3 separate regions of the Homo sapiens genome follow, and all the other regions are linked to region 1. Evidence: fine-mapped expression QTL. A gene starts in region 1. Each other region holds a variant in brackets. All regions are shown on one strand. Distances are from middle to middle. Region 1 holds the start of CD200 (CD200 molecule). Region 2 overlaps BTLA (B and T lymphocyte associated). Region 3 has its middle 76 kb from the start of BTLA.

The links. PIP is the estimated chance that this variant, and not a neighbour inherited with it, causes the effect.
Region 2: its variant is the best candidate, but not a certain one, in a credible set for the expression of CD200 in thyroid (GTEx, PIP 0.86).
Region 3: its variant is the best candidate, but not a certain one, in a credible set for the expression of CD200 in whole blood (TOPMed, PIP 0.59).

The regions. Positions count from the first base shown.
Region 1 is chr3:112,328,132-112,337,368 of GRCh38, forward strand. It overlaps CD200 (CD200 molecule), which reads left to right and starts at 5,025. Exons shown (of 6, transcript NM_005944.7): 1 at 5,025-5,093. The coding sequence starts at 5,082. It overlaps LOC105374042 (a long non-coding RNA gene), which reads left to right. Exons shown (of 5, transcript NR_147411.1): 4 at 1,215-1,255; 5 at 4,055-4,623. RefSeq lists enhancers at 4,692-5,649, 5,650-6,606, 7,103-7,862.
Region 2 is chr3:112,488,272-112,498,963 of GRCh38, forward strand. All of the region lies in intron 1 of BTLA (B and T lymphocyte associated), which reads right to left. Among named protein-coding and RNA genes, the nearest start is that of BTLA, 5.9 kb to the right of the region's middle. RefSeq lists a silencer at 3,853-3,902 and enhancers at 9,665-9,784, 10,653-10,692. The variant C/T (reference allele first, on the strand shown) is at 5,817.
Region 3 is chr3:112,417,834-112,428,525 of GRCh38, forward strand. No RefSeq gene overlaps it. Among named protein-coding and RNA genes, the nearest start is that of BTLA, 76 kb to the right of the region's middle. RefSeq lists enhancers at 1-648, 649-1,502, 4,919-5,771. The variant G/A (reference allele first, on the strand shown) is at 4,686.

The DNA.
Region 1 (9,237 bases):
AGAGCTGGAGTGCAATGCTGCGATCTCAGCTCACTGCAACCTCCACTTCTGGGGCTCAAGTGATTCTCCTGCCTCAGCCTCCCAGGTAGCTGGGATTACAGGTGCCCACCACCATGCCCAGCTAATTTTTTGTATTTTCTTTTTTTTTGAGACGGAGTTTCACTCTTGTTGCCCAGGCTGGAGTGCAATGGTGAGATCTCGGCTCACTGCAACCTCCGCCTCCTGGGTTCAAGTGATTCTCCTGCCTCAGCCTCCCAAGTCACTAGGATTGCAGGTGTCCACCACCACGCCCAGCTAATTTTTGTTATTTTTTAGTAGAGAAGGGGTTTCATCATATTTTGAGGCTGGTCTTGAACTCCTGACCTCAGGTGATCCACCTGCTTTGGCCTCCCAAAGTGCTGGGATTACAGGCGTGAGCCACAGCGCCCCTTTTTGTATTTTTAGTAGAGACAGGGTTTCACCATGTTGGCTAAGCTGGTTTCGAACTCCTGACCTCAAATGATCCTCCTGCCTCGGCCTCCCAAAGTGCTGGAATTACAGGGGTGAGCCACCGCACCCAGCCAGAAATTTTTTATATCTTAGATCCTTTACATACTAGATATAGATTACTTCTCCCTGTTTGGCATCACTCTATTACATTTTTCAGTTATACTGTTAGGGGAACAGAAGTATTTAATGGAAAACCAAAAGTCCACTTTTTGTGGATAAAAAGTAGATGGATTTAACAATGTTAAGTCAAACTATAAGTTGTTAATAAGTTTGAGTTTGGGGCATTGATGTCTTTATAGTGGAATTTCCTTCAGCCATAAATATATTATCCATTTATTCAAGTCTTTCTAAATGTCTTTTAGGAAGGCTTTACAATTTTCTCAATGTAGGTGTAATTTTTGCTAGGTTAATTCTTTGGTACTTTTAATTTATTCACTATAATTAATGATATTTTAAAAAATTTCTAGCTGGTTATTATTAGTGGTTTAGGAACATTTTTGGATTTTTTAAGTTAACCAATATTTGGAAACTGTGCTAAACTCTGTATTTAAGTTTTTCTGTTGATTTTGATTGTTTTTCATGAAGTTGATTCTCTCTCTTACAACTAATGACAGTTTTGCTTCTTTCTTTCCAATCGACACCTCTTTTTATATTTAATACCTGCAATAACAGTTATCTTTTTCTTGTTTCCGATTTAAAAGACCATGTCTAAAATTTCCTTACAGTTGAATATGACATTTACTGCAGTTTGATCACTAAGCATAAGGTTAGGAAATATTTTCTTATTCTTATCTCCTTTGCTTTTATGATAAATATGTTGTTGAACTTAAGAAAAAATTTATTGGTACTTGTTGAGATAATCATGAATTTTTCATAGCAATTTACTAATATAATAAATTATACTGACAGTTTTCTAATGTTAAGCCATTTTGGAAATTGTTCTGCTTTATATTTATAAGTAAAAGAGGACTATAATTTTATTTTCTTGGATTATCCTTTCCTGGCTTTAAAATTAAAATAACACTAGCCTCAAAGAAAGATCTTAGTAATTTTATAATTCTCCCTTTTGAACATGAATAAGATAGATCTATTCCTCAACAATCCTCTAGGTCTGTTATTTATTTATTTATTTTGCAAAACAAGTCTTTGATTTTGATTTACTTGCTTACTAATTTATTGGCCTATTTAATTTTTAAATTTTTATGGCCAATTTGCCACTTTCAGAAATTTATTCATTTTGTGTAAGTTTTCATATTACTGTTCACAATATTGTTTTGTTATTTTTGCTATTTGTTGCATCAGTATTAATTCTCCCTTTTCATTCTATATTGTTACTCTGTATTACAGTAATAATTTTCTGAGTATTACAGAAATAATTTTCTGAGTATTACATGCCACCCGTTTGATCAATTAATCTCTAAAAAAATTATATTTATTCTATTTGTGTTCGTTTTTATTGATTTCTGCCTTTAGTTTTATTATTTTTTTTCTTCTCATTTTGTTGAGTTCCTTGTTTGCTTCTTTTGCTCAATATTGACATCTGATATAGTTAAGGTGATATATTAATTCTGAATGCTCCTTTAAATCTGTCCAATAATTTTAAATGTCATTTTTTTCTTTTTCCTGCAGACCTTTCTTTAAAAAAAATTATGTAAGCAAATTTCTTCTTTTTCAAAGGGTTTTTAATACAATGTTTATGCTTCATTATGGCTGGGAGTTTTTCCCCTTTTGTTCACTCTTCTGTGTCCCAAGTCTCTTTTAACCTAAAAATGTTGTTTTTAAGCTATTTTTTTTTTTGAAATAGTGTTTCACTGCATCACCCAGGCTAGAGTGCAGTGTCTCCATCATGGCTCACTTCAGCCTCAACCTCCCGAGCTTAAGCAATCCTCCCATCTCAGCCTCCTGATTAGCTGGGACTACAGACATGTGCCACCATGTTCAGGTAATTTATTTTTATTTTTTGGTAGAGACAGGGGTCTCACTATGTTGCCCAGTATGATCTTGAACTCCTGGCCTCAATCATTATGAAACTGGTTGCTTAACTATATAATTTGAATCTGGATTTTAAAATAATAAATGTAAGATTTTATTTTTAAAAAATTAGAAAATAAGATTATGAGAGGTGAGGAGAATTATGCTAAGGTATACGTGTTGGGAAATTTAAGAAATTGACTTAAAAAAATAAATATATGCATTGTCCTTAGTAAGTTAGGAGAAAACAGCAGAATAATAAAATATAACTCTTAATGTAGCAAGATAATATTTAGCTTAATGAAAGATAAGACAGAAGAAAATATACTAAAATAAAATATAAAAAAATTAAAAGTCCTATTATATCAGTAATTACAACATACAAATAGGTTAAGGCCGGGTGCAGTGGCTCACAACTGTAATCCCAGTAGTTTGGGAGGCCAAGGTGGGAGAATTTTTTTTCCAAGTGTGCAGTTAATATTTCTCTAATAGAGGAAGGTTAAAAATAAAGTGATAGGAAAATATATGGGAAAAATAAATGTAATAGAATGATGTACATATGCTTGTGAAAAGACAGGTATAAGAATGTTTATAGCACCACTATGAAAAATGCTTCCAATTTGAAAAACAAAGAAATGTTAATTAATAGAAGAATAGATAAATAAATTGTAATAGACAGTATTTACAGAATAGGATACTATACATCAGTGAGAATGAATAAGCCACACTACAGGCAATAACATGGATGGATTTTTAAAATCTACTGTTGAGTAAAAAACCCAGAAACAAGTGAAGACATATGCTACGATGCCATTCATATAAAATTCAAAATCAGGTGAGCCTAGTCTATGGTGTTAGAAGTAGGAGAATAGGGGCCGGGCGCGGTGGCTCACGCCTGTAATTCCCACAACTTTGGGAGGCTGAGACGGGCGAATCATGAAGTCAGGAGATCGAGACCATCCTGGCTAAACGGTGAAACCCCGTCTCTACTAAAAATACAAAAAAAATTAGCCGGGCGTGGTGGCGGGCGCCTGTAGTCCCAGCTACTTCGGAGGCTGAGGCAGGAGAATGGCGTGAACCCAGGAGGCAGAGCTTGCAGTGAGCCGAGATCGCGCCACTGCACTCCAGCCTGGACGACAGAGCGAGACTCCGCCCCCGTCTCCCACCGCCCCCCCCCCAAAAAAAGAAGTGGGAGAATAGGTCAGGTGCAGTGGTTCATGCCTGTAATCCCACTGCTTTGGGAGGCAAAGGTAGAAGGAGCATTTGAGGCTAGGAATTTCAGGCCAGCCTGGGCAACACAAGACCCCGTGTCTGGAAAAAAAAAAAAAGCTGGACATAGTGGCTGCACAACTATCATTCTAGCTACTCTAGAGGCTGAGGTGAGAGGATCCCTTGAGCCCAGGAGTGAGTTATGATCGCACCACTGCATTCCAGCTTGGACAACAGAGCGAGACTTTGTCTGTAAAAAGAAGCAAAAACAAAACCCCAAAGCTTTGTCCCAGCTCCTTATGAGAGGGTGGTAGTAGTAAAACACAAAAGCCTTCAGGAGGTGAACACTTGATGATTTCTTTGTCCTTTTTTTTTTTTTTTTAAGAGCCAAGAACTCTGGAACAAGAAGAAGAAGACGAAGGAGGAGGAGGAGGGGGAGGGGGAGGAGGAGAAGGAGAAGGAGGAGAAGGAGAAGGAGAAGGAGACGGAGAAGGAGGAAGAGGAGGAGGAGGGCCGGGCGCAGTGGCTCACGCCTGTAATCCCAGCATTTTGGGAGGCCGAGGCGGGCGGATCACGAGGTCAAGAGACCGAGACCATCCTGGCTAACATGGTGAAACCCCGTCTCTACTAAAAATACAAAAAATTAGCCGGGCATGGTGGCGGGCGTCTGTAGTCCCAGCTACTCGGGAGGCTGAGGCAGGAGAATGGCGGGAACCCGGGAGGCGGAGCTTGTAGTGAGCCAAGATAGCGCCACTGCACTCCAGCCTGGACCACAGAGCGAGACTCCGTCTCAAGAAGAAGAAGAAGGAGAAGAAGGAGAAGGAGAAGGGAAAAAAGAATCCTCATCATTAATGCAAGTGGAAGGAAACTCTTCACCAAAGAATTGATCACATCATGAAAGGTGAAATCATTACGGAATTGCTTAAATATATAATTTGAATCTGGATTTAAAAATAATAAATGTAAGTTTTTTCTTTAAAAAAAAAAAAAAGTCCATTGGTTAAATTCAGCTTGAATCCTTTGCCACTACATCAAGAGCTAACAGGTCAACAACTGATCTCCACAACCTCCCACCTCATTTCCTTTCTCAGTCCAGGTAGCAGGAAAATGGAAAAAAAAAAATGATTTTTTTTTTCCAAACACTTTGTCAGTTTCCCCAGCGGTCACCTTTGAAAAGGGAAAAATGTCTGAAAATAGACAAAGCTGAATATAAACATCATTTAATTCCCCCCACACAGACAGCCTCCGCTCCTGTGAGGGCGTGGGGAAAACGGAGTGGGAGAAGGGGGCTAGCGAGGAGGAAGAGGCGGGAGGTGCGGCAGGGGCACAGGTGACGCTCCTCCCGCCTGCCTAGCAGAGCTCCAGGCGCACATCCGCAGTCAGCCACCTCGCGCGCGCCTCCAGGAGCAAGGATGGAGAGGCTGGTGAGCGGGGCCGGGGCTTGGGAAGGAGGGCGCAGGGCAGGCGATGTTGAGCCGGTGGCCCTGGGGCGGGCGGCGAGTGGAAGGCGCGGAGCTTCGGCTCTTGCCACAATCTGGTCCGGGGACTAGATCAGCGGTGTTGATGGCAGCGCTTTTCTCTAAGCGCTTTCTCTTGCTGAGAAACGGATTTTGCCTTCCAAAGGGTGGTTTACAGGCAGCTGCTGGCGTCCAGATTCTCCATTCCAATTGCCTGAAAAAAAGATGCACCAGGCCGGGGCTCCGGGGGCTCTTGATCCGCGCTGACGAAGCTGGCGCATCCTCCGGGCAGGCTCGGCTCGGCTCACTGGCTCCAGCTCCCAAAACTGGGGAGGCACAGCCTATTTTAAACTGCCCCCAAAAGGGAAAGAGAAATGCTGTATTGGTTCCATATTGGCACCAAAAGCTGCGGCGGAGATACAGATTTCCAGGCTCGCTTTCTCCGGGAGAGCTCCTGCGTCTCCTCTTTGTTATGCAGCCCCTTTCTCCCTCCTAGCCCTTGCCTGGGGGAAGCCATGAAGGATCAGTTAAAGCTGAAGCTACACTTGAGAGAGCTGAAATGCTCTGTGATCATAATGCTTTGAAGGGTTAACCCCGGGTATCTAGAGAAACAGACATTTTGTTTATTCGGAACCAGCTTACAAGACAAAAAACGGAGAAGGTTTTCATATATCCCATTGGTATATGAAATCCAAATACAATGGTATTGGTATAAGAATCCAAATACAGTGAATGCCTCAAGATAATTTTTTCATGTATGGTTTGTTGGCAAGACCACATAGCCAATGATTTCACTGTCTTTCTTAACAAAGGAGAATGGTGGTCTGTGAGCTACGGTCTACTGCAAGCTAGATGCTGTTAATCTTCTTTGTAACTATCCTTCTAAAAATGAATTATTACCTCGTTTTACACATAAACAGGCGGAAAGGCTGATATTTCCAAGTCCTTGTGACTACATGTGGGGTAATGTGGATTTGGACATAGAAACTTGCTGAGGAAGAGGCATGAATAGGGGCAATATAGCTACCAGGTGGGCAGCTGTCTGGTAAGACCCAGGTTTTTGTGAACCCTGGACTGCATGGCAAGGGTTATAAGTGGGCTTCTTTGTTTTCAGGACTGTAGTTCCCCCTATATGATTTGATCGATTAATTTTTTTAGCTACCTAACACGTATTGGCATTTACTATAACCTAGGCTCTATACTAAGTGCTTTAATTGCCTAATTCTCATAATAACTATGTGAGATAAGAGCAACATTTATTTAGTGCTTATTTCTACTGGCAGTATTCTAGGAGCTTTATATACTACTTCATTTAGTCTTTTTAACCATTAGATTGGTACTATTACTTTTCCGGAGTCTCAGAGAGGTAAAATGATTTCTTTTGCTCACAAATCTAGTATTTGTTTTAGCCCCGGTCACCTCCCTGTAAACATATAAATACTGTTGTTTTCAGATTGGTCGTATTTTCAGTTATTCTGCACAGACTCGAGGAAAAAAAAAACCTGTAAAATAAAAATACGTATCTATTTAAGAGTAAGGCTTTCCTTCTGATTTCCTTTGCCTCAATCACTGTGTTTTGTTTCTTAACATTGCTGGCTCCCAGTCCACAATATATGGTTTGGTATGTATCTGCTTTCTCTCTTGTCCTAAAACACAGATTTTCTCTATGAGAGCTTGTCCATTCTGCATTCTTCATCATGGCCTCTGGTAGAGCCTGGATTTCCACGTCAGAGAAGCCTAATGGTTTAAAAAATATCACATAGAATTGGAATGCCAGTATCTGTCTCCACAATTGCCTTAGCTGAAAATAAAACAAAATGTGTTGGGTGGGCACTGGCAATGGAGCCTGAGGAAATATTTGGCCTGATTTTTTCTGACTTTCCTAGATAATTAGATAGGATGGAACAGTCTCAGTAATACTGAGAAAATTATCGAGTTATATATTTTTTTTCACTTCAAAACCAAAGCCTTTGTGAGTATAATACCCAGCAGTGGATGGGCAGGGTGAGCAGATCTTTGTAGGCTGTATGTATTCAGGCAGCTGAACCATCTTGGGTTTCTCAAAGAGCAGTGACTATGTTATTAGTCTTAGACCTATGAAGACAGGAAGAGAAGTCACAAGGAAGGGATAGCATGCTTATGGTATGCTTGGGTATCGAATAATAAAATATATCTGCAAAGAATAATTTGTCCTAATGGCACCTTCAGATGATATAATCTTGAATTCTCTGTAGCCTTAGAGATGTAAGGAAAAAGCAACTTACATCACAAAGATCAGTATTACTGTGTACTATGATGCCACTGCATGGGGTCCAGGATGAGAGTCTAAGTGATTGGTTCTCTCTAGCTGAAGACAAGAAGACACTCAGGTATGTGGCAGCACTTGGGATAGGCCACAGGGCGGCGAGACATCATTCCTTCCAGGACATCTATCCTGAAAGATCCATCAGGAATACTGTGATGGAGATAGTGATGGAGACTCCTTGTCTCTGGCAGTTAGAGTGAATGCTGAAGAAGAGCCCTTTTCCAGCAGGCCAGTCTCTAACATGATCTTGGGTCTTCACCCAGACCATGACAGCTCTGGTGCTCAACACACACAACCACCTCCAGGGTACAAGTTGGCCCCAAGAGAGCTGAGACAATATTGGCTCTAATTTTTATCATCTCATTGATCTCAAACCACAGACTCTGACCAGGACAATTGGGGGCCCTCTCCTTACAGCTACACTCCTAGGAAAGACCACCATCAATGATTACCAGGTAATTTTCTACCCCTACCTATGAAGGGACTTGGTTAGTAACTTCTCTTGCTAGAGGAAAAATGAAGCTTATTATATAAGATTAATGTTTGTGAAACACCTGTTATTTGGAATTGGTTTGGTACTTCCTCTTGAAATTTCCCTCATTAAGTTTAGGTCGTGGCTGTTTCATAAGGAAAGAAAAGGGCATGTATTGACTGGAATTAAAATTAACAAATCCATTGAGTAGGAGGATATTAAAATTGAGTGGCTCCCATTGGACAGGAAAAGGAAGAGAAATCCTTGTGGCAGGTAAAGGAGGAGAGATTTAGATCCTTGAGAACTCCATTCCCGACCCGCTGCTCCTGAGCCCACAGGAAGAAGGCCATCACAAGACAATAAAAATCCCAGAGAAATTGAAAGGCAAACAGAAAGACCCAGCTTGGAGTGATAAGGAAAATGAATTCCAGCAGGGAAGTCATTGTATCTAAAAGGAATGGCAAAAATAGGGCTTAGTTAAGGCAAACACCGAGAATGAGGGGATGGGATTCCCACAGGTAGAACACCACCCTTTAGCAATGATCCTGACCCTAAAGCAAGGTCATTTAAGTGATTATGGGCCAATATTCTAGAAATAAGCTTCAAATTATAGTAGCAACAGATGGGGCTAAACAGGAGCCGATAAGAACATACAAACAACTTCAGAAAGGGATGCCCGTGATGGGTTCATTAAGGAAAAAGTGGTCAGGACATCCCGCTAAAGCAACAGGATTCAGTGGATATTGAGGTTCTTGGGGGGCAATGAGACAGGCACCAAGAGACCACTACTTTATGGAAGACTATGATCATACTGCTAAATACCATAAAAGAATAGACAGAGCCAAATAAGAGACTGTTTCTAATGAAACAAGCAGACAATGTCCCAACCTCAGGAATTTAACTCAGTCTGAAAAAGAAGAGTAGTTTCAAAACTGTCAAGCCTGCTTTAGTGCTATAATTTTTTTCACTGACAAGAGAGAATGAAAGACTGATAGCTGGGGGAGTGGCGGGGGGTGAGGGGTGTTGACAGGTAGTAAGCATGCTGGAAACAGTGTCTCAAGGTGTGGGGTATATGGTGGGTATATTTGGGAAGTAGTCATTTTCTCTCAAACTGGAAAGCAGATGGGTGTGTTCAGACAAGATCTGGAAGCTGTGGCATGGCAGACAAAGGGAGATGGGACCCCTTTGGCACTGGAGGAAGAGGCTTGAATCTTCTTGGAGCACTAAAAGTTCCAAAAGACCTAAGCAGAAAATGCTTCCGAAGAGGAGGATCTGTATGGCAAGATGACTGTAATCAGGCTCATAAAAGTAAGACCTTACATAAATACAAGTGA
Region 2 (10,692 bases), 160 kb after region 1:
GGCTGGAGTGCAGTGGCGCAATCTCCGCTCACTGCAAGCCTCCCGGGTTCACGCCATTCTCCTGCCTCAGCCTCCTGAGTAGCTGGGACTATAGGTGCCCACCACCACGCCCGGCTAATTTTTTGTATTTTTAGTAGAGACGGGGTTTTACCCGGTTAACCAGGATGGTCTCGATCTCCTGACCTCGTGATCCGCCCGCCTCGGGCTCCCAAAGTGCTGGGATTACAGGCGTGAGCCACCGCACTGGGCCTAGCCCAGTAAGTTTATGCAAACTTACCATACCCTCATATCCCCACTCCCTAGCAAATGTCTGATGCTATTTTGTGTGAGATGCATCACTCCTTTTTTGTTGTTGTTGTTGAGACGGAGTCTCGCTCTGTCACCCAGGCTGGAGTGCAGTGGCGCGATCTTAGCTCACTGCAACCTCCACCCACCGGGTTCAAGCAATTCTGCTGCCTCAGCCTCTGGAGCAGCTGGGAATACAGGCACCTGCCACTGCGCCCGGGGAATTTTTATATTTTTAGTAGAGATGGGGATTCACCATGTTGGCCAGGCTGGTCTTGAACTCCTGACCTTGTGATCCACCCGCCTTGGCCTCCCAAAGTGCTAGTATTACAGGCATGAGCCACCGCACCCAGCCGACATGCATCACTCTTTATAACTACATATGTGTTCATGTTTCTGTCTTCTATCTAGTCTGCTACTTCCTTGATGGTGTGTTACCTTTCTATGTAGTACTGGTTGCACAGCAGAGACAGCTAAGCCCTTAGAGAGGTGGGCTAAAAGGCACTGAGGTGAAGAACATATGCAGCTCAACATACCTTACAGTGGTTAAGTTATAACTACCAAAGAAAAGCTAGACTTTACAAGTATTCAGTTTGAAAAGGCCTGATTTATGTCCACTCAGGGGTGGATATTAAAAATATTTAACAAGTGACACTCCATGGCCATCCAGCTACACAGATCAGCTGATCAGAAAGGAGTGCCAGCCACAAACAACTGTATAGTCTCGTAACTCCCAGCTGAGCAAGTGTAGTTGCTGAGCTGAAGAGAGTAGGTAATTTTTGAAACCAATCAGCCATTTAAAAAAAAAGAGGGTTATGATTATGAATATTTTATAAAATATCATTATTTCTTATTTTTAAATACCATATGTTTTGATTATAACCATTATCATGAGGAAAATCTCACCTGAGTTTCACTATGTCTCCATTGAAAAATTCTTACAAATTTATGGAAACTTCAAAGTGGTTGCAACCATTCAAATAAATGAATGACTGTAATGAATGCAGATTGCCTTAACTTGAGCTAAGAAAGTGTCAGAGTTTAACATAGAAATTAAACAAATGATTTTTTGAGAAACTAAAATGATTACTAACGGTATAATAAACCAATAATTTTCTGTGACATCAACCAGGATTTTAGCTTCTATCAGAAAATACTATCACAGACAAACAACAAGCAAACCAAAACTTCAGACGCATGCTGGGGAGGCTACAGAAGGAATGAAGTCTTTACACTCAGGAGCAAAAAGGCATCCAGATGGTATGTTCTGCCTTACTTTAGAAGGCTGGAATGGTAGAGAGGAGGGGAGAGATGATGGCCACCAGGGAAGGGAAATAATCTGTCTCTCAAATCTTCCCTTGAAATTAGAGTTTAGGGATCCCATAAGGCAGTGGTTTGTACATAGTCAGGGCAAATCCACACACAGCAATAGCAGCCATGGAACCATACTTCAAGGATCTTGGGAGGACATTGACTTGCATACCTTGGGAAATCACACGGACGACATCAGAAAACCCAGGTAGCATACTTTCCCATCATAAACTAGCTCACATACACTCACAAAATCAGAAATGTGGTGACATGAGGTTAGGGTGGGGGAGTTCCACCTCATATAGAAAGTATTCATTTAATGTATTATGTAATGTCTATTAAAGGTATTACTTTAACTCTGTGGTAAATAAACCACTCCATAAGTCAGATATTCTCAGAAGTACTAGGAATACCTGGAGAAAATTAAGTAAGTATGACACACACAAACATATGTTAAAATCAGAGCTTCTTTTGTAAAAGTGACTATTGTTACTTTAAGGAAAACCCTGTGATTGTTCTCACGAGTACAGTGAAAACTGACTGGCCCTCAGTCCCTTCTGTAAAATGAAAGTTTATTTACATATGTCTTTCCTGAAAAACAACACTAAAGATACAGATCATAGACAATACAGATCACAGACAAGGATGTAGTATGCAATAGTAGATTTAACTTATTCTCTGTGGATATCACCTGATATTGCTCTTTAGACAAGAAGAGCCATTTTCTCCCTGGGTAAACACACACACACACACACACACACACACACACACACAATGTAAAATTTCCTTCACAAAAATGGAACTGGAAAGTATTAATGCCAAGAATACACAGGGCATAAATCTACATTTATGCCCATTATTTAAAAAAAAAAAGCAACCATGAAACAAGAAAATTGAGAGCATTTTCACAATCATCTTTTATTATTATTTCCTCTTAAAAATCCCCTTCTTATAAAAACATATCTTCTTATATTCATTTATGAAATTTTTCTTTAAGTTTACTTTCATATGGTATTAGCACACTTTAAAGCAATTTCTTCTACAGTTAGAATTTCTCATTGTTAGTGTAGTATGACTATTTGGCAAGTAAATTTGAAGACTGATCTCTTCAATGCAGTTGTATTGAGCCACTGAAGACTTTAAGCTCTGTATCTCTTGATTTTATCATGTTTGAAATAATTCTGAACTTGTTTTGTCTAAAATCAGTCATTCTAGTATTTGTCATTGCTTTTTCCGACATTTAGCAAAGCTTACAAAGTCCCCATGTCATTTCCTCTCCTTGAGATATTTAAGAGTAGAACAAGAAGAGAACCTTAGAGGTCATGAGGTCAGATGCCCAATGGAAAGTTTAAGTTACATTTAGGAGATCACCTCTAGAATCACTGCTACACATTCTTTGCCACTTGCCCACAGGTACACTCCACCTCACATTATCTATATACTGTAGACCCAACCTAGATCCATCTTAACACGAGGAAAAAAAGAATATGACTAATATTTTCAAAGTTCTTATTATGAGGTAGGCACTTTTAGATACCAAACATGTATTGTTTCATTTGACCCTCACAATGATTTTATGAGGGAATTACTATTATGGCCTTTATTTTTTTAAGTTGAGGAAACTGGGTATTAGAGAATATAAGCCACTTGCCCAAGATCACCAGCTGGTAGGAGGAAGAGTCAAGGCTAGGACTTTAACCCAGGTGTGGCTAACTCCAAAGCACAAGCTCTTATCCAGTAGGGTTGTTGTGAAAGCAAATGAGAACATATAGGAAATATTCTTAGCACTATGCTTGGCACATAACAACAACATAAAGTACCAGATATTATTATGTTTTCTGATAGGATGAATTTAGGGAAATCACACAGAAGTTGAGTCATTGTCCAGAGGTGTAAAGCCTATGAATGGTAAAGACAAGATGGAAACACAGAAGACTCTGCTGTGAAAAATTACCCCCAACAACCATTCTAGGGATCAGCAGTGGTGCATAATAACTAGTATATACACCAGGCAAAAATATATCTATATAATAGAGAGAAGAAAGGCAGCACATCCAATATAAGCATGCTCTTCTTTTATGTGGGAGAGGAAACTCTACAGAAATATATTAACCAGCAAGGCTTGCCTTGGTCAAAACTAGAATATTGAAAAAAACTTTGTCCTTTGATAATTTTCTAAGCTTGCTTTCAGGACTTCTTCATTACATCTCTGCCAAGTCACAAATGTCCCCTTGCAGATCTACCCTACTGGTCACTGACTTTGCTTCTCTAGGCCAGAGGATTCATATGCATTGCACTCCTTAGAGCCCTGTCTACTCTGTGTAACAAGGATGAGTTTCTGGTGGTTTTAGTTGGTCAACATGTAATTATCGCCCTTGAATAGTAAAAGCTTCTAGTCAACTTAATGAGTCCTAAAGAACAATGATTTAGAGAGACTTTGATTGCCTGTTACACATAGGCCCTGTCCTTCAGAGAGGCTAAATTTTCCACCTTTGTCACAGGGATTTCAGGAAGAAACATAGGGCAGCAAATGTAGACAGCATACCTGAGAAGCTGTTGACAGTAGCATCAGTGAGTGCCTCTGGCATTTGATCAGAAACCAACATGAGTATTTCTAAATATTGACTTCAGTGGAAGGATTGTTACTTGTGATGTTCAGATTAAGTGTGGCTTATGTATTATGATTGGAAAGGGAAAGTCCATCTCTACTTTCTTCCCAGATACTTCCTCACATCTCTAATACATTCTACCACAGACATCACACTGAGATTCACTGGCATTTTCAAAGCCCTTGAAGATACTAAACAATACTTATGTGGACAGAATCTGCTAAATGTCTTCCAATATTAATTCTCATCTTCTAATATTATAGAGGAAAATGAAGTGGGGCCATAACCCCCCAGATAAAAATCTCAATGCCCCAGCCTCCCTTGTAGCCAAATACTGGATAATAGGCCATTTGTGATGTGTGTGAGTTCCAGGTTGTGCTTATAAGATGAACATGGTTATCAAGAAGGCAGAAAAAAGAAATTAAAGAGCTCTGCCAGCTAAACTTGATGTTTTCCTGGGACTGATCTAACACTCTTCTGGACTCTGTTCTAAGTGAATCTCAAATTGTATGACACCTCTGCATGCATACACACAGACACATGCTGCACACAAGCCACTTCTTCCATTGAGATAAACATGTAAATCAGGTCCATAACCATGAGAGTATACCAGAAAGGTACAAAATATTGAGCTTATTTTGAGGTAAGAGAATGGAGAGTATTAGAAAAGTGAAGCAAATCGCATATGATACAATTCACTGACACAATACAACTCAAGCGCATGATTCTCAAGCACTATTAGCTTTTCTTGGTGACCAAGGATAAGAGTAGATAATGCTTTTGGCATTTTTCTCACAAAGTCTTCATGACATAAATGCCAAAAGCAATTGCAACAAACTGAAGAACTTCTGCACAGCAAAAGAAACTCTCATCAGAGCAAAAAGGCAACCTACAGAATGGGAGAAAATTTTTGCAATCTACCCATCTGAAAAAGGCCTAATATCCAGAATTTACAAGAAACTTAAATAAGTTTACAAGAAAAAAACAAACAACCGCATCAAAAAGTGGGCAAAGGATATGAACACACAGTTCTCTCTGTTTTTTTTTGGAGACAGAGTCTCACTCTGTTACCCAGCTGGAGTGCAGTGGTGCAACCTGGCTCACTGCAACTTCAGTCTCCTGGGTTCAAGCAATTCTGCCTCAGCCTCCCAAGTAGCTGGTCTTACAGGCGTGTCCCACCACGCCCAGCTAATTTTTGTATTTTTAGTACAGACAGGGTTTCACTATGCTGGCCAGACTGCTCTTGAACTCCTGACCTCAAATGACCCGCCCTCCTCAGCTTCCTGAAGTGCTGGGATTACAGGCGAGAGCCACTACACCCAGCCTAAACAGACACTTCTCAAAAGAAGACACTGGCTGGGCGCGGTGGCTCACGCCTGTAATCCCAGCACTTTGGGAGGCCGAGACAGGTGGATCATGAGGTCAGGAGATCAAGACCATCCTGACTAACACGGTGAAACCTTCTGTACTAAAAATACAAAAAATTAGCCAGGCGTGGTGGCAGCCGCCTGTAGTCCCAGCTACTCGGGAGGCTGAGTTAGGAGAATGGCATGAGCCCGGGAGGCAGAGCTTGCAGTGAGCGGAGATTGCGCCACTGCACTCCAGCCTGGG[C/T]GACAGAGCGACACTCTATCTCAAAAAAAAAAAGAAGACATTTATGCCACCAACAAACATAAGAATAAAAGCTCAACATCACTGATGGTCAGAGAAATGTAAATCAAAACCACAAGGAGATAACATCTCACGCCAGTCAGAATGGTGATTATTAAAAAGTCAGGAAACAATAGGTGCTGGCAAGTCTGTGGAGAATTAGGAATGCTTTTACACGGTTGGTGGGAGTGTAAATTAGTTCAACCATTGTGGAAGACAGTATGGCAATTCCTCGATCTAGAACCAGAAATACCATTTGACCCAGCAATCCCGTTACTGGGTATATACTCAAAGGAATATAAATCATTCTACTATAAAGACACATGCACACGTATGTTTATTGCAGCACTATTTACAATAGCAAAGACACGGAACCAACCCAAATGCCCATCAATGATAGACTGGAAAAAGAAAATATGGTACATATACACCGTGGAATACTATGCAGCCATAAAAAAGAATGAGATCATGCCCTTTGCAGGGACATGGATGAAGCTGGAAGCCATCATCCTAAGCAAACTAACACAGGAACAGAAAACCAAACACTGCATGTTCTCACTCATAAGTGGAAGTTGAAAATGAGAATATATGGACACAGAGAGGGGAATAACACAAACCAGAGCCTGTTGGGGAGTAGGGGGAGAGGAGAGGGAACTTAGAGGATGGGTCAATAGGTTAAGCAAACCATCATGGCACACGTATACCTATGTAACAAACCTGTACATTTCTGCACATGTATCCTGTTTTCCTTTTTTAGAAGAAATAAAGAAAAAAAAGAGTAGATAATAATATCAAGAGTAATTTATAGAAGACTTTTGTGAACTCCAAATTTTTATTTGTGGTTGATTCCCAATTGTCACCCAATGTTACTTTAACAGGACTATTAAACTAATGAAATGTTGGACTAAAAGAAAAAAAATTAGCTAAATATACACAGCACTGAATGGCATGCCATGCACTATTCTAAGTGTTTTACAGAATTAATTCACTTAATAGTCACAACAACCTTATAAGATTATTCTCCCATTTTTTTAGATGAGAAAACTGAGAACCAGAGATTTTATAGTCACAAAACCATTAAATGGCAGACATAGGATACTAATCCATGGAGTCTGGCTTTAGAGTCCCTGATCTTAGCCACTATACCACACAGCTTCTCCAAGGAAAAAAGAAAATGATTATTTTTTGGACCTGATTACAAATGCCTGTAAATATTTTTCTTTTAACAATTCTGAACTCTACATAAAGATGAAACTCACAAATAATGGAAATTAAGTAGGAAAGTCCCAATGAGGCAAGATAAATAGTTTTGACGTCAACTTTACAATAGAGGAAACTTTGGTAGTAGGACAGAGGAAGCAAGAAATTTAAAAACTTCTCTGTGATAGGAAAAGTATATTCAAGGCTGCAATGAGCACAAGGTTAATCTTTTCATGCTTTAATTCAAGAAGTCCTGTAACCACAGAATGCATTCCTAAACATTTATTTAATATATGGCAGGCATTGTTGTAACAATACATAGGCACTTGGCAGAAGACAGAGCTCTATCTCTAGCATTCCTCCATATGCACATTTCAATAAGAACAAATAGCTGAAGCCATAGAAATATGCCTTATAAAGATACTGTGCTACAAAACCTGAACTTCAAGGAATGATATTTTTTGACCCAAAGATATGGCCAGTTTGTAGTAGAGCAAAACAATCTGTGTGGGATGTGGAACACGGTGTTTAAAAGCTGGTCCATGGACCATACTGGACCATCATAATAAAGGGAAAAAAATGACACAAGCCAGACCAAAATGGAGACATAGCCCTAACCACTGTATTCTCAAAAGAGCCAGAATACAGGTGTCTTTCCCTTACTGAACCAGACTAGGATTGCTTTTTTTAAAAATCACAATAACCAGTAATCAATCAAACAGTTCCAACTGCCTTTATTCTGCATCATATATGGTGTTGGTGATACCCAGACATTAACTGCAGTGTTCCTGCCTGCCTAAAAGTGGAATCCTTGGTTGATCCTCAACTGAACTAGGGTCTAGGGCAGCCTCAGACAAATGGTCCAGGATGACAGGGCAGGCAATGGACAGAGACACTTCCACTTGCAGTCTAGATCTTGCCAGCATGATCTGCCCATGAAGGGAAGATATTGACATTTTTATTACTTCTATCAGGACAGAAACTGTATGCCACACACTGAGGGGCAAGTTTCTCTAATTTTTTAGAGAAACACAAAAAGTAAGCAAGCATACTTTTGTAATAAAGAAGGACCTTAAACAGGAAGTTTGTAGAGAACATTACATTTTTTCCAGCCTTATTATATATGCAGCCTCACTCCTAGGAACAAGGACACGGATCTCACATTGCTTTGAAGTAGGGGGAAAAAATCTTCAAAGGCTATCTTTAAACACTGAAAATGTATTACTGTAAAGAACTCAGCAATTAAGTAAATCACAGGAAATCCCCAAGATATAAGGTATTTAATGTGGTTTTAAGAAATGGAGCCATCAGCTCTGCCTGGGAGAACAAATTTCACCAAATGTTCCTTCTCTTAACCTATAGCTTTAATTTAATGCAACTGCTGCTGCAATCCATTATATCAACTGGTATATATCTGACCAGTACTTCACTCAAGTCTTTCCCTTTTTTTTTTGAGTGCAGTGGTGTGATCTCAGCTCACTGCAACCTCTGCCTCCTGGGTTCAAGCTATTCTCCTGTCTCGGCCTCCCGAGTAGCTGGGACTACAGGCACCTCCCAACACACCCAGCAAATTTTTATATTTTTAGTAGAGACGGGGTTTCACCATGTTGACCAGTCTGGTCTTAAACTCCTGACCTCAGGTGATCTGCCCGTCTTGGCTTCCCAAAGTGCTGAGACTAAAGGCTAGGGCCATGGCTCCCAGCCATATTTCATTTTCTGAATAATTTGATTCACTATATTTTGGGCTAAATATATTGCAAAATATATTGTACTTATTTATTTTATTTTTAACTTTAAAAACTCAACTATTTTAAATAATAATGTTAAAACATAATTCTCATTTAATTACATAGAGGTTGCATGGTGAAAATAATTTAGGAAAAATACCACTAACATTTACTGAGCTTTAAATACGTGCACTTACTATGCGAGGCACTTTACCCATATTATTGCATCTACAGTCTTCACAGCAGCCCCATAATTTAGGTACAATTATTACCTGTATTGTACAAATGAGGAAACTAAAGAGAAGAGAAGAGACTTAATCAATGCCATACAGTAAGTGGCAGAGCCAGTAAATTAACCCAGTTCTAACAGCCAAGTTCACTTTTGCAAATGCTAGGTTGCACATTGGGAGAAATAAAGGTCTTACCCCACCATCAATGTGGTTTAGCACTGAAACTCATTGTTCTTAATTTCATAGAGAGTAGTTTATGTATCCTTCAAATGGGGAAGAAATCTATTTAATAATATTTGACTCCAGTTGTAGCTATGTGACTGTAGGCATCTGATGGAAGGTGGAAAATTCAGTCAACCATCTAAGCACCTAGTTGACTTAATACTAGATACTTACAAACATAAAGATGTTTGAGTAACTAAGGACTTTTTTACTTTGCACTTGGTTGTGTGGCATCCTGGCATCATAGAGACATATTCCAAACTACACAGTTTAAAATTATAGATAGACTTTCCATAGAACCTCAGTGGCCAGATTTTCTAATTTAAAATTGCAGTAGCCAAACTGATAAATGTGTGCTTGTAGGGAATAATAAGACAGAATATTTAAAACCTGAAAAATCACTGGGCATGGTGGCTCATACCTGTAATCCTAGCACTTTGGGAGGCTGAGGCAGGTGGATCACTTGAGGTCAGGAGCTCCAGACCAGCCTGCCCAACATGCATTGCATCCATAGCTTGGCTGACTTTCTTAAAAAACAGGTTGATGGCAAGAAAAGAGAACTGAGTAGATGTTATAAATAGTTAAGTACAAATCTATCACTACTTCTTGCGAAAATGCTCAGGCTGCCACACTGATGATGAATAGATAGCTCGTTCTTCCCAAACTGAGTGCAGTAGAGTGTTGCAGTGCTCAGTTGGGTAGGACAGATGTTGGATAATTGGGGTTATCCAACATCTCTACTAAAAATACAAAAATTAGCTGTGCGTGGTGGAAGGTGCCTGTAATCCCAGCTACTAGGGACGCTGAGGCAGGAGAATAAATTGAACCCGGGAGGAAGAAGAATCGATTGAACCCGGGAGGCAGAGGATGCAGTGAGGCGGGATCACGCCATTGCACTCCAGCCTGGGTGACGAGAGCAAAACTCTTGTCTCAAAAAAATAAAAAAATAAAACCTGAAAAATCAGAAGCTTCTGATGAGCCACTCATAGGCTTTTCCTCTTGATAATATGTGGGTTCCTATGCAATATAAGGTAGGAAGCGACTTTACAATAAAAAAGAAATTGCCTTTTTTTTTTTTTTTTTTTTTTTGCCTGTATAAAGTCTTTGCAGGGGTGGCTAAATATCATCTTTGCAGAATCCAACTTATTTTCTGTGTTCAATTGACAACCAAGTAGGAACCATTCCCTTTCAACAAAATAGAAGCAATGACGAAAAGTTCTGCTCCTATATTTTGTAGCATTTTCTCAATCGGTATTCTCAAGGCATACATCCCAATGAAGCAAGTATAGAGATTTTATTTAGAGGTAATATTATTTGAGGGTAACCATGGAGATATGTATAATTCCGATTATCCAACAACTGTCCTACCCAACTGAGCACTGCAGCACTCTACTGCACTCAGTTTGGAAAGAACGAGCTATCTATTCATTATCAGTATGGCAGCCAGAGCATTTTTGCAAG
Region 3 (10,692 bases), 90 kb after region 1:
AATGAGCAATGTAGCCATTAGGTAGAATTTGTGTCCAACACAAGGTCCACACATGCACGCCAACTAATAGACAGAATCCCACAAATCTGAGGCAGGAACTAGGCAGGGAAAAGGCAAGGACTTAAGGCAGCAGCAGGAAAAACTAGATGAAGGAAAAAGGTGGAGACTTAACACAGAGATGAGAACTTCAAGAAAAAATCCGTCATAAAAACCCAATGCAGAACTCTTGAGGCTACTGCTGGCTCATTCTCTGTTAGTAGCCCACTGTGCCTCATCTTTTGGAGTGTACTGTCTGTCTAAATAAACTCTGTGCTCTAATTTTGCTTCAATAAATTCTCTTTTTGGGCTAAGTGGTCTCTTGGTAGGATTCTTTCTTACAAGTAAGCCTAAGAACAGAGGACTCTGCTCTTCCCAGTAACAAAATCACATTAATTATTTCCATGAACTTGTCACCCAGGAGTATCTGGCTTCCCATCCCTGACACCTTTTAATCTCTCAAAAAACATTTGTCTGGGGTTATTCTACTCTTTTAATACTCCTATTAAACTCTACTATTAAAAAAACCAAACTTATTCATTTCATGCGCGTCCGTGTGAAGAGACCACCAAACAGGCTTTGTGTGAGCAACGTGGCTGTTTATTTCACCTGGGTGCAGGCGGGCTGAGTCCGAAAAGAGAGTCAGCGAAGGGAGATAAGGGTGGGGCCGTTTTATAGGATTTGGGTAGGTAAAGGAAAATTACAGTCAAAGAGGGTTTGTTCTCTGGCAGGCAGGAGTGGGGGTTGCAAGGTGCTCAGTGGGGGTGATTTTTGAGCCAGGATGAGCCAGGAAAAGGACTTTCACAAGGTAATGTCATCACTTAAAGCAAGGACCGGCCATTTACACTTCTTTTGTGGTGGAAGGTCATCAGTTAAGGTGGGGCAGAGCATATTCACTTCTTTTGTGATTCTTCAGTTACTTCAGGCCATCTGGGCATATACGTGCAAGTCACAGGGGATGCGATGGCTTGGCTTGGGCTCAGAGGCCTGACATTCCTGCCGTCTTATATTAATAAGAAAAATAAAACAAAATAGTGTTGAAGTGTTGGGGTGGCAAAAATTTTTGGGGGGTGATATGGAGAGAGAATGGGCGATGTTTCTCAGGGCTGCTTCGAGCGGGATTAGGGGCGGCGTGGGAACCTAGAGTGGGAGAGATTAAAATTTTAGTTTCCTGACTTGGGACATGTTGAATAAAGCTAATTTGCCAGTCCTGGGTGGGGGCAAATCCTCGAGCTTGATGTGTAAGGAAGGGAGGGGGCCTGAATAATCCCTGAGGAATAGTAGAACAGCAGATGGAACACTGAGAAATTATTTCCTTGAGGATAGATTTCCACGATGGAAAGGAAATGAGAGGTTCTGAGAGGCAGGCTAGTGGCTTGTACTATAGCATAGCCTGCCTTTGCTGGTGTGTGGCGATTAGGCCTGGTGGAACCACCATCAATAAATCAAGCGTGATCGGGGTGAGGAACAGGAAAGAAGGAAATATGGGGAAATGGGGTGAATGTCAGGTGGATCAGAGAGATAGTCATGGGGGTCAGGTGTGGTATCAGGAATAATGTGGGAGGCCAGATTGAAGTCTGGGCCAGGAACAACGGTAATTGTGGGAGACTCAACAAGGAGTGAGTACAGCTGAAGGAGCCGGGAAGCAGAAAGTATATGTGTCAGGTATGAGGAAGAAAATAGATTTTGGAAGTTATGAGAACTGTAGAGAGTGAGTTGAGCATAGTTTGTGATTTTGAGGGCCTCTAAAAGTATTAAAGCAGCGGCAGCCGCTGCACGCAGACATGAGGGCTAGGCTAAAACAGTAAGGTCAAGTTGTTTGGACAGAAAGGCTACAGAGTGTGGTCCTGGCTCTTGTGTAAGAATTCTGACCACGCTAACCATGCCTAGGAAGGAAAGGAGTTGTTGTTTTGTAGAAGGTGCTGGGGTTTGAGAGATCAGTCGGACACGATTGGCAGGGAGAGCACGTATGTTTTTATGAGAATTATGCCGAGATAGGTAACAGATGAGGAAGAAATTTGGGCTTGATTGAAGTAATGGGGGCTGTCTGTGAAGCTTTGCGGCAGTACAGCCTAGGTAATTTGCTGAGCTTGATGGGTGTCAGGGTCAGTCCAAGTGAAAGCGAAGAGAGGCTGGGATTAAAGGTGCAAAGGAATAGTAAAGAAAGCATGTTTGAGATCTAGAACAGAATAATGGGTTGTAGAGGCAGGTATTGAGGATAGGAGAGTATATGGGTTTGGCAGCATGGGGTGGATAGGCAAAACAATTTGGTTGATAAGGCGCAGATCCTGAACTAACTTGTAAGGGTTGTCTGGTTTTAGGACAGGTAAAATGGGGGAATTGTAAGGAGAGTTTATAGGCTTTAAAAGGCCATACTGTAGCAGGCGAGTGATAACAGGCTTTAATCTTTTTAAAGCGTGCTGCGGGATGGGATATTGGCGTTGAGTGGGGTAAGGGTGATTAGGTTTTAATGAGATGGTAAGGGGTGCATGATTGGTCGCCAAGGAGGGAGTAGAGGTATCTTATACTTGTGGGTTAAGGTGGGGGGATAGAAGAGGAGGACGCAAAGGAGGCTTTGGATTGGGAAGAAGGGCGGCAATGAGATATAGCTGTAGTCCAGGATAGTCAGGGAAGCAGATAATTTAGTTAAAGTGTCTCAGCCTAATAAGGGAACTGGGCAGGTGGGGATAACTAAAAAGGAGTGCTTAAAAGAGTATTGTCTAAGTTGGCACCAGAGTTGGGGAGTTTTAAGAGGTTTAGAAGCCTGGCCGTCAATACCCACAACAGTTATGGAGGCAAGGGAAACAGGCCCTTGAAAAGAAGGTAATGGGGAGTGAGTAGCCTCCGTATTGATTAAGAAGGGGACGGGCTTACCTTCCACTGTGAGAGTTACCCGAAGCTCGGCATCCGTGATGGTCTAGGGGGCTCACGAGGCGATCGGGCAGTGTCAGTCTTCAGCCACTAAGCCGAGAAGATCTGGGAAGGAGTCAGTCAGAGAGCCTTGGGCCAGAGTTCCAGGGCCTCTGGGAGTGGCTGCCAGGTGAGTTGAACAGTCCGATTTTCAGTGGGGTCCCACACAGATGGGACGCGGCTTAGGAGGAATCCTGGGCTGCGGGCATTCCTTGGCCCAGTGGCCAGATTTCCGGCACGTGTAGCAAGCTCCTGGGGGAGGAGGTTCTGGAGGAACGCCTGGCCACTGCGGTTCAGGTGTTTGGAAGTTCTTGTGTGCTGGAGATGTGGCTGGGGTTTGTCTCACAGTGGAGGCAAGGAACATTGCAACTTTTTTCTATTATTGTACGCCTTGAAGGCGAGGTTAATTAAATCTTGTTGTGGGGTTTGAGGGCCGGAATTTAATTTTTGGAGTTTTAGTGTCAGGAGCAGATTGGGTAATAAAATGTATTTTGAGAATAAGACGGTCTTTTGCCTTTTAGGGTCTAGGACTGTAAAGTGTCTCAGGGTTGCTGCCAAACAAGTCATGAACTGGGCTGGATTTTTATATTTGATGAAAAAGAGCCTAAACGCTATCTGATTTGGGATAAAGAAAAAGGAGCATTAATCTTGACTATGCCTTTGGCTCCAGCCACCTTTTTAAGAGTAAATTGCTGGGCAGGTGGGGGAGGGCTAGTCACGGAACGAAACTGTAAGTCAGACCAGGTGTGAGGAGGGGAGGTGATAAAAAGATTATAGGGTGGAGGAGCAGAGGCTGAGGAAGAATTGAGACCTAGCTCAGCCTGGCGAGGAGCAGGCTGGGGAGGAAGGGAGAGGTCAGATGGGTCTGTAGAAAAGGAAGATTAGAAAGACTCAGCAACACTTGGGGTTGGTACTGAGCGGACAGGCGGGAGGGAAAGAAGGAAGATTTGGGACGAGTTGCACTGGGCACAGAGACTAGGATGGGACTGATGTGTAAAAGAATGCCTGGACGTCAGGCACCTCAGACCATTTGCCTATTTTACGACAAGAATTATTTAGATCTTGCAGGGTGGAAAAATTCAAAGTGCCATTTTCTGGCTATTTGGAACTACTGTCGAGTTTGTACTGGGGTCAAGTGGCATTGCAGAAGAAAATAAGGCATTTAGGTTTTAGGTCAGGTATGAGTTGAAGAGGTTTTAAGTTTTTGAGAACACAGGCCAAGGGAGTAGAAGGAGGAATGGAGGGTGGAAGTTTGCCCATAGTGAAGGAAGGAAGCCTAGAGAAAAGAGAGTAGAGAAATGGAGGGAAGGGGTTCGGGGGTTCTTACCTTCCAGAAAAGTGGGAAAAGGGGTTGGAGCACAGAGATAAGAGGTCAGGGCACAGAAATAAGGGATGGGGCGCAGAGATATGAGGTTGGGGTGTGGAAATAAGGGATTGGGGCACAGAGATAAGAGGTTGGGGTGCAGAAATAAGGGATTGGAGCACAGAGATAAGAGGTTGGGGTGCGGAAATAAGCGATTGGGGGGTTCTTGCCCCCTAGGAAAGCAGGACTTGCCGCTAAGGGTGAAGGAGAAGGGGTTGAGGGGTACTTGCCCCTGCCCCAGGAAAGCAGAGAAGGGGTAGAGACAAGGAGAGAAGGGGTTGAGGTACGTGCCCCTTCCCCAGAAAAGCGGGACTTGCCGTTAAGGGTGAAGGACCAAGGCAGGCGTCCCTGCGTGTTCTGACACCCTTGAAACGTG[G/A]GTGTATAATCAGAGAGGCATCCCTGCAATGATTAAACACCAAGGGAAGGCTGCCTTCCCAGTCTGTGACCGGCGCCGGAGTTTTGGGTCCACGGATAAAACGTGTCTCTTTTGTCTCTACCAGAAAATGAAAGGAATTGAAATTAAGAGAAGGGAGAGATTGAAGTGTAGCGCCAAGATTGAAAGGAGAAAGAGGTTGAGGGATAGTGAGGGAAGTTGGAGAAGAGAGTAAAAAGAGGCCGCTTACCGGATTTGAAATTGGTGAGATGTTTCTTGGGCTGGTCGATCTCAGGACCTGAGGTCGTAGGTGGATCTTTCTCACGGAGCAAAGAGCAGGAGGACGGGGGATTGATCTCCCAAGGGAGGTCCCCCGATCCGAGTCACGGCACCAAATTTCATGCGCGTCTGTGTGAAGAGACCACCAAACAGGCTTTGTGTGAGCAACATGGCTGTTTATTTCACCTGGGTGCAGGTGGGCTGAGTCCGAAAAGAGAGTCAGCGAAGGGAGATAGGGGTGGGGCCGTTTTATAGGATTTGGGTAGGTAAAGGAAAATTACAGTCAAAGAGGGTTTGTTCTCTGGTGGGCAGGAGTGGGGAGTCGCAAGGTGCTCAGTGGGGGTGCTTTTTGAGCCAGGATGAGCCAGGGAAAGGACTTTCACAAGGTAATGTCATCACTTAAGGCAAGGACCGGCCATTTACACTTCTTTTGTGGTGGAATGTCATCAGTTAAGGTGGGGCAGGGCATATTCACTTCTTTTGTGATTCTTCAGTTACTTCAGGCCATCTGGGCATATACGTGCAAGTCACAGGGGATGCGATGGCTTGGCTTGGGCTCAGAGGCCTGACAATTCACATATATAGCATTGATGATTCTAAAAGCCTTATTTGTTTATCTTTCACATTGATATGTAATTGTTCTGAAATTTATTTTTGTGAGGAAGAAGTTGATATGTGCTTTTTCCATGTGAATATCCAATGGTCCCATCCATTTCTCACTGCACCGCTATATCATATTTTTCATAAATCAGATGAATCTGCTTCTGAACTCTCTATTCTCTACCATTGGTAATTTTAATCTATATTTGAGCCACACTGTCTTAACTACTAAATATATATAAGAGTATAATTAACTATGGTTTTTAACAGATCTTTATGTTTAGTACAAGTCCTCTAGTTTTTTTTCTTCTTCTTCCTCAGGCTTGCCTTGCCCATTTCTAAACTTTTACATTTTCATATAAATTTCAGATTAATGTTATCCATTTCTGAAAAACAAAAACTCCTGCCAGTATCTGATTGAGATTGATTTAGTAGTTTAAATTAAAACTGTATGACAAAATATTTTGTAACCATTAAAATTATACACACAATGAATTTAGGAAAACTCAAGAAAAACATTTTTAGTAATATTAATAATAGCAACTAATATTATCCTAAGCATCATACATGAATAAATTTATTGAATTGTCATGATAACTATTTCAGAAATGTATTACCCTTACCATTTCCTAGTTGAAGAAATGACAGCTCAGATATATGATTTAGATTATGCAGTGTCACACAGTGAGTGACAGAGCTGAAAAATAAATCCTAGTCTGTACTCATGAAAAAGTCAAACTTTTAGTCACCTAGATTTTTAAAAAGCGTATTGAATGGAATTCTTCCTAAAATAAATTATAAACCTGTTTTGCCTTTTTGCAAACCTAAAGAATACAATCATATATTTTCATTTCCATTTCTGGTCATTATTATGAATATTAGTGATTTGCTTAAACCACAATACAGTGTTATCCTAGGGCTCTATTATCATACCTAGGATTATTTTCTGTTGCATTAAATTGTCTGAAAATAATGCAATCTTTCTTTTTTTAGCTTCTCTTTTGGACTTTTCTAACTTAAGTATGTTAACTTAACTCTTTCCACTTGTTTCTTGCTGTGTGTTTTTAAGTTGATTTAATAAACCATGTAATTCAAGCATTTTAATCTGGTCCATGAGGCTTTCTGGTATTTCTGGTCTGGAATAGCTTTCTTGAAACTGTACTTGAAGGCAGTCATCACATGAAGGTAATTTCCTGCAGAACAGCTAAGTATAGCAAAGAAAATAAATAGAAAGAGTGGAGTCTCTGATGACGCAGTTTGACAGGTGAACCAAGCAATCTACTTGCCAAACAGGATAAAAAAATCTTTCTCTGAGCTGGCATATTACAATATTTAATGAAATATTTGTATCTGATGACAAATGAATAAATTTTAAAATATATTTTATGTTAACCAGATGCCTCAAAACATAACACTTTGCCCAACTTTTGAAATAACTGATAGATTTATCTTGTATTCATGAACTGTTGTACTAATATTTTCCAAATATTCTGGCTTTAGAAAAATTTAATAATAGGCTTCTATTTCAAGATGAAAGACTTGCCATACATGCTTATCTTTCATAATCCCTGAGTTTCCACTGAAATAATAAAATAGCTTAAAGTATTATAAATATGCAACCAAATAAGGAGAAAAGACAAGCACATTAAAAAAAAATGAAAGTTTTTAAAAAGTTATGACAGATAAAAAGTAAATAAAGGAGTAAATGATGTAACAGGATGAAGAAAACGTGGCCTAGAAGAGAGATGGCTCTAGAAGAGAGGAATGCAATGAATTTTGAGGCAGAACTCTGGAGAGGCCCAGAATTCAAACTCTGAAGTTGTCTAAATGAAACTCTGAATCCAGGACAATTGAGCTCATACTACATTCCCCAACTTTTCCAACCACATGTAGAAACATGGACAGTCAGATAACTGTATCCTATGTAAAAACATAAAAATAAAATTAAAATTTTAAAAAATCAAAGTGTTCTTTTACAAAGAAATTGAATGAATTATCTGAGATTACCTAAGGCAGAGTGATCGGACATCAATTTTTCCAGAGCAAAGACCTCAACATGTGGGCACTGGGGGTCTTGAAACATACTTGGCCTGCTCCCTTTTATTTCTGTAATGTGAAGACTATCAGTTAATAAGCCCACCTACCTTTCCAGAGCAGCCAAGTGTCATGCATTACTACCAACTATTTGAGGAAATACGGTAACATGAAAGAAAGATACAGCTAAAAACAAAAAGAAGAAAAGCCTCTAATCACTTAACTTAGGAGAAAGAATGATTAAAAAAAAAGAAAGAAAACTTAAGAACAGACAAAATTCTAGTTAGTTTCTGTAAAGAAACTTGAAGAGTTTTCATTTATATAAAATAAACAGTGGAGGCCATGAAGAAAGACAAAAAACTGTTGGAAATTAAAAGTATGATAAAAACAAAAAGAAATAAAAATAAAAGAAGAATGAATTAAAAGAAAGATAAAACCTAAGAAATATCTGGATAGAAGAAAGAAGAGATTAAAACTGAGCAAAACATGAAAGAAAAAGAAAATTAATTTAGAAGACCCAGTGAGATACCAAGAAATTTCAAAAAAAAAAATTGACAGAAAGAACTTATCAAAGAAAAAAATCATCAAAAAAATTGAGACACTAATTTTGCAGAAGTGAAACACTGAATGCTACTACTGAATGCCAAAAACAATAAATGAATGAAAGCCCATGCAATACCCTCATGGATGTTAGCATACCAGAGAAATGGGTAGAAAATAAAATAAAATGAGATTACCTAGTAATAAGAATAAGACGGTGTCTTAGTTCATTTGTGTTGCTATAAAGGAATACCTGAGGCTGGGCGATTAATAAAGAAAAGAGGGTTACTTGGCTCACAGTTCTGCAGGTTGTACAAGAAGCATGGTATCAGTATCAAGCATGGTATCAGCATCTGCACCTGGTGAGGGCCTCTGAAAGCTTCTCTTTGGGGGAGAAGGAGAAGTAGAGAAGGCATAATATGAGAGAGAGGAAGCAAGAAAGAGGAGGAGGTGCCAGGCTCCTTTCAACAGCCAGTTTTTCCAGAAACTAAGAATAAGAACTCACTCACTTTCACAAGAATGGCACTAAGCCATTCACAAGGGATCCACCTCCATGATCCAAACACCTTCTACCAGGCCCCACCTCCAATGTTGGGGATCAAATTTCAACATGAGACTTGAAGGGGACAAACAAACTATATCCAAATCTTAGCAGAGGGCATCAAATTTCTTAAAGATCCCCAGGATTTGTAAAGCACTCCAAAGTCAGGGTAGGAATGGAGTTAGGAAATAATGCAATTATAGGTGAGGGAAACAAAAATAATAATTAATCAAATTCAGAAATAAATCATAGAAAATTTCCATGGAGTCAATAACAGCAATTCCTAAATTTCTTTACATTAAGTCAAAATATATAATCCATTAATTTTAATTTTTTTTTTTTTTTTTGATACAGAGTCTCACTCTGCTGCCTAGGCTGGAGCGCACCTCCACCTCCTGCATTCACGCCATTCTCCTGCCTCAGCCTCCCGAGTAGCTGGGACTACAGGCGCCCGGCTAATTTTTTGTATTTTGTTTAGTACAGATGGGGTTTCACGGTGTTAGCCAGGATGGTCTCTATCTCCTGACCTCATGATCCACCCACCTCGGCCTCCCAAAGTGCTGGGATTACAGGCGTGAGCCACCACACCCGGCCAAATTTTTTTAAATATATTTTCAATTCTGCTAACTTGGTACCCTATGTCCCCTGACAGATCTTCTAGTTTAGAACAGTTCAGGTTACTACTTTGGTTTAAATGTGAGCCCCAAAATTCAAGTGTTGGAAAGTTAATTCCTAATGCAACACTGTTGAGAGATGGGTCGTTTAAAAAGTGATTAGGTCATGAGGGCTTTGCCCTCGGCGGTGGATTAATATTGCTGAGTGAGCTAGTTATCATGGGAGTGGGCTTTTGATAAAAGGATCAGTTCTGCCCTCTTCCCACTCTCTCATGAATGCTCTCTTGCCTTTCTACCTTCCACCACGTGATAATGCATTAAGAAAGCCGTCACAAGATTTTAGCCCCTCAGTCTTAGACTTGTCAGCCTCCAGAACTATGAGAAATACATTTTTATTCATCGTAAATTGCCTAGCCTTTAGTATTCTGCTAGAGCAGCATGAAACAGACTAAGAAATTGGTACTGAAAAGTGGGGCTGTTTTTACAAAAAAAAGTCTGAAAATGTGGAAGTGGCTTTGGAACTGGGTAATAGGGAGAGGCTGAAATAATTTGGAGAAGCAGGCTAGAAACAGCCTAGATTGCTGTGAGTGGAGTGTTAAGGGCAACTCTGGTGAGGGCTCAGAAGAAGACGAGCACTATAGGGAGAGCCGAAATCTTCTTAGGAATTACATAATTGGACATGATCAGAATGTCGGTAGACCTGTAGACAGCAAAGCCACTCCAATTAGATCTCAGATGAAAGTAAGGAACAAGGTATTGGAAAATGGAGCAAAGACCTTCCTTGTTATACAGTTGCAAAGAAATTGGTGGAATTTATGTCCGTGTTTTAGGACTTTGTGGAAGACAGAACTTAAGGATAATGAACTATGTGATCTTGTGGCCCAGTGGTAGCGCATCTGACTCCCAGAACAATGAACTACGGTACCTGACAGAAGAAATATCTAAGCATTGAAGCATTCAAAGTGCCACATGACTTCTTTTGGCTGCTTACAGTAAAATGAATAAAAAAGAAAAATAGTTTAAAGAAGGAATTTATAATTAAAAGGGAAGCAGAAAGAAAAGATTTGGAAAATTCTCAGCACGGCCATGTACAGAATAAAAAGGTGTGTTCAGGAGAGAATATTAAGGGTTTGGCCAATCGACCATTTGCTAAAGAGATTATTGACAGAAGGAATTCAGGTTCTATTTACCAAGATAATGTGAGAGTGACCCCAAAGGTATTTCAGAGATCTTCTAAGCAAGCTAGAATCTTGAGGACAAGAGAGGCACCAGTAAGACCTTAGCATCTGCTGCCCAGAACAACTTTAGGACTTTGCTCCCCCATTCCCCAGTGCAGTCTCCTCAGCTGCCCCAGTCATGGCTCAAGCTGGCCCAGGTGGAGCTCAGCCTGCCACCCTGGAGG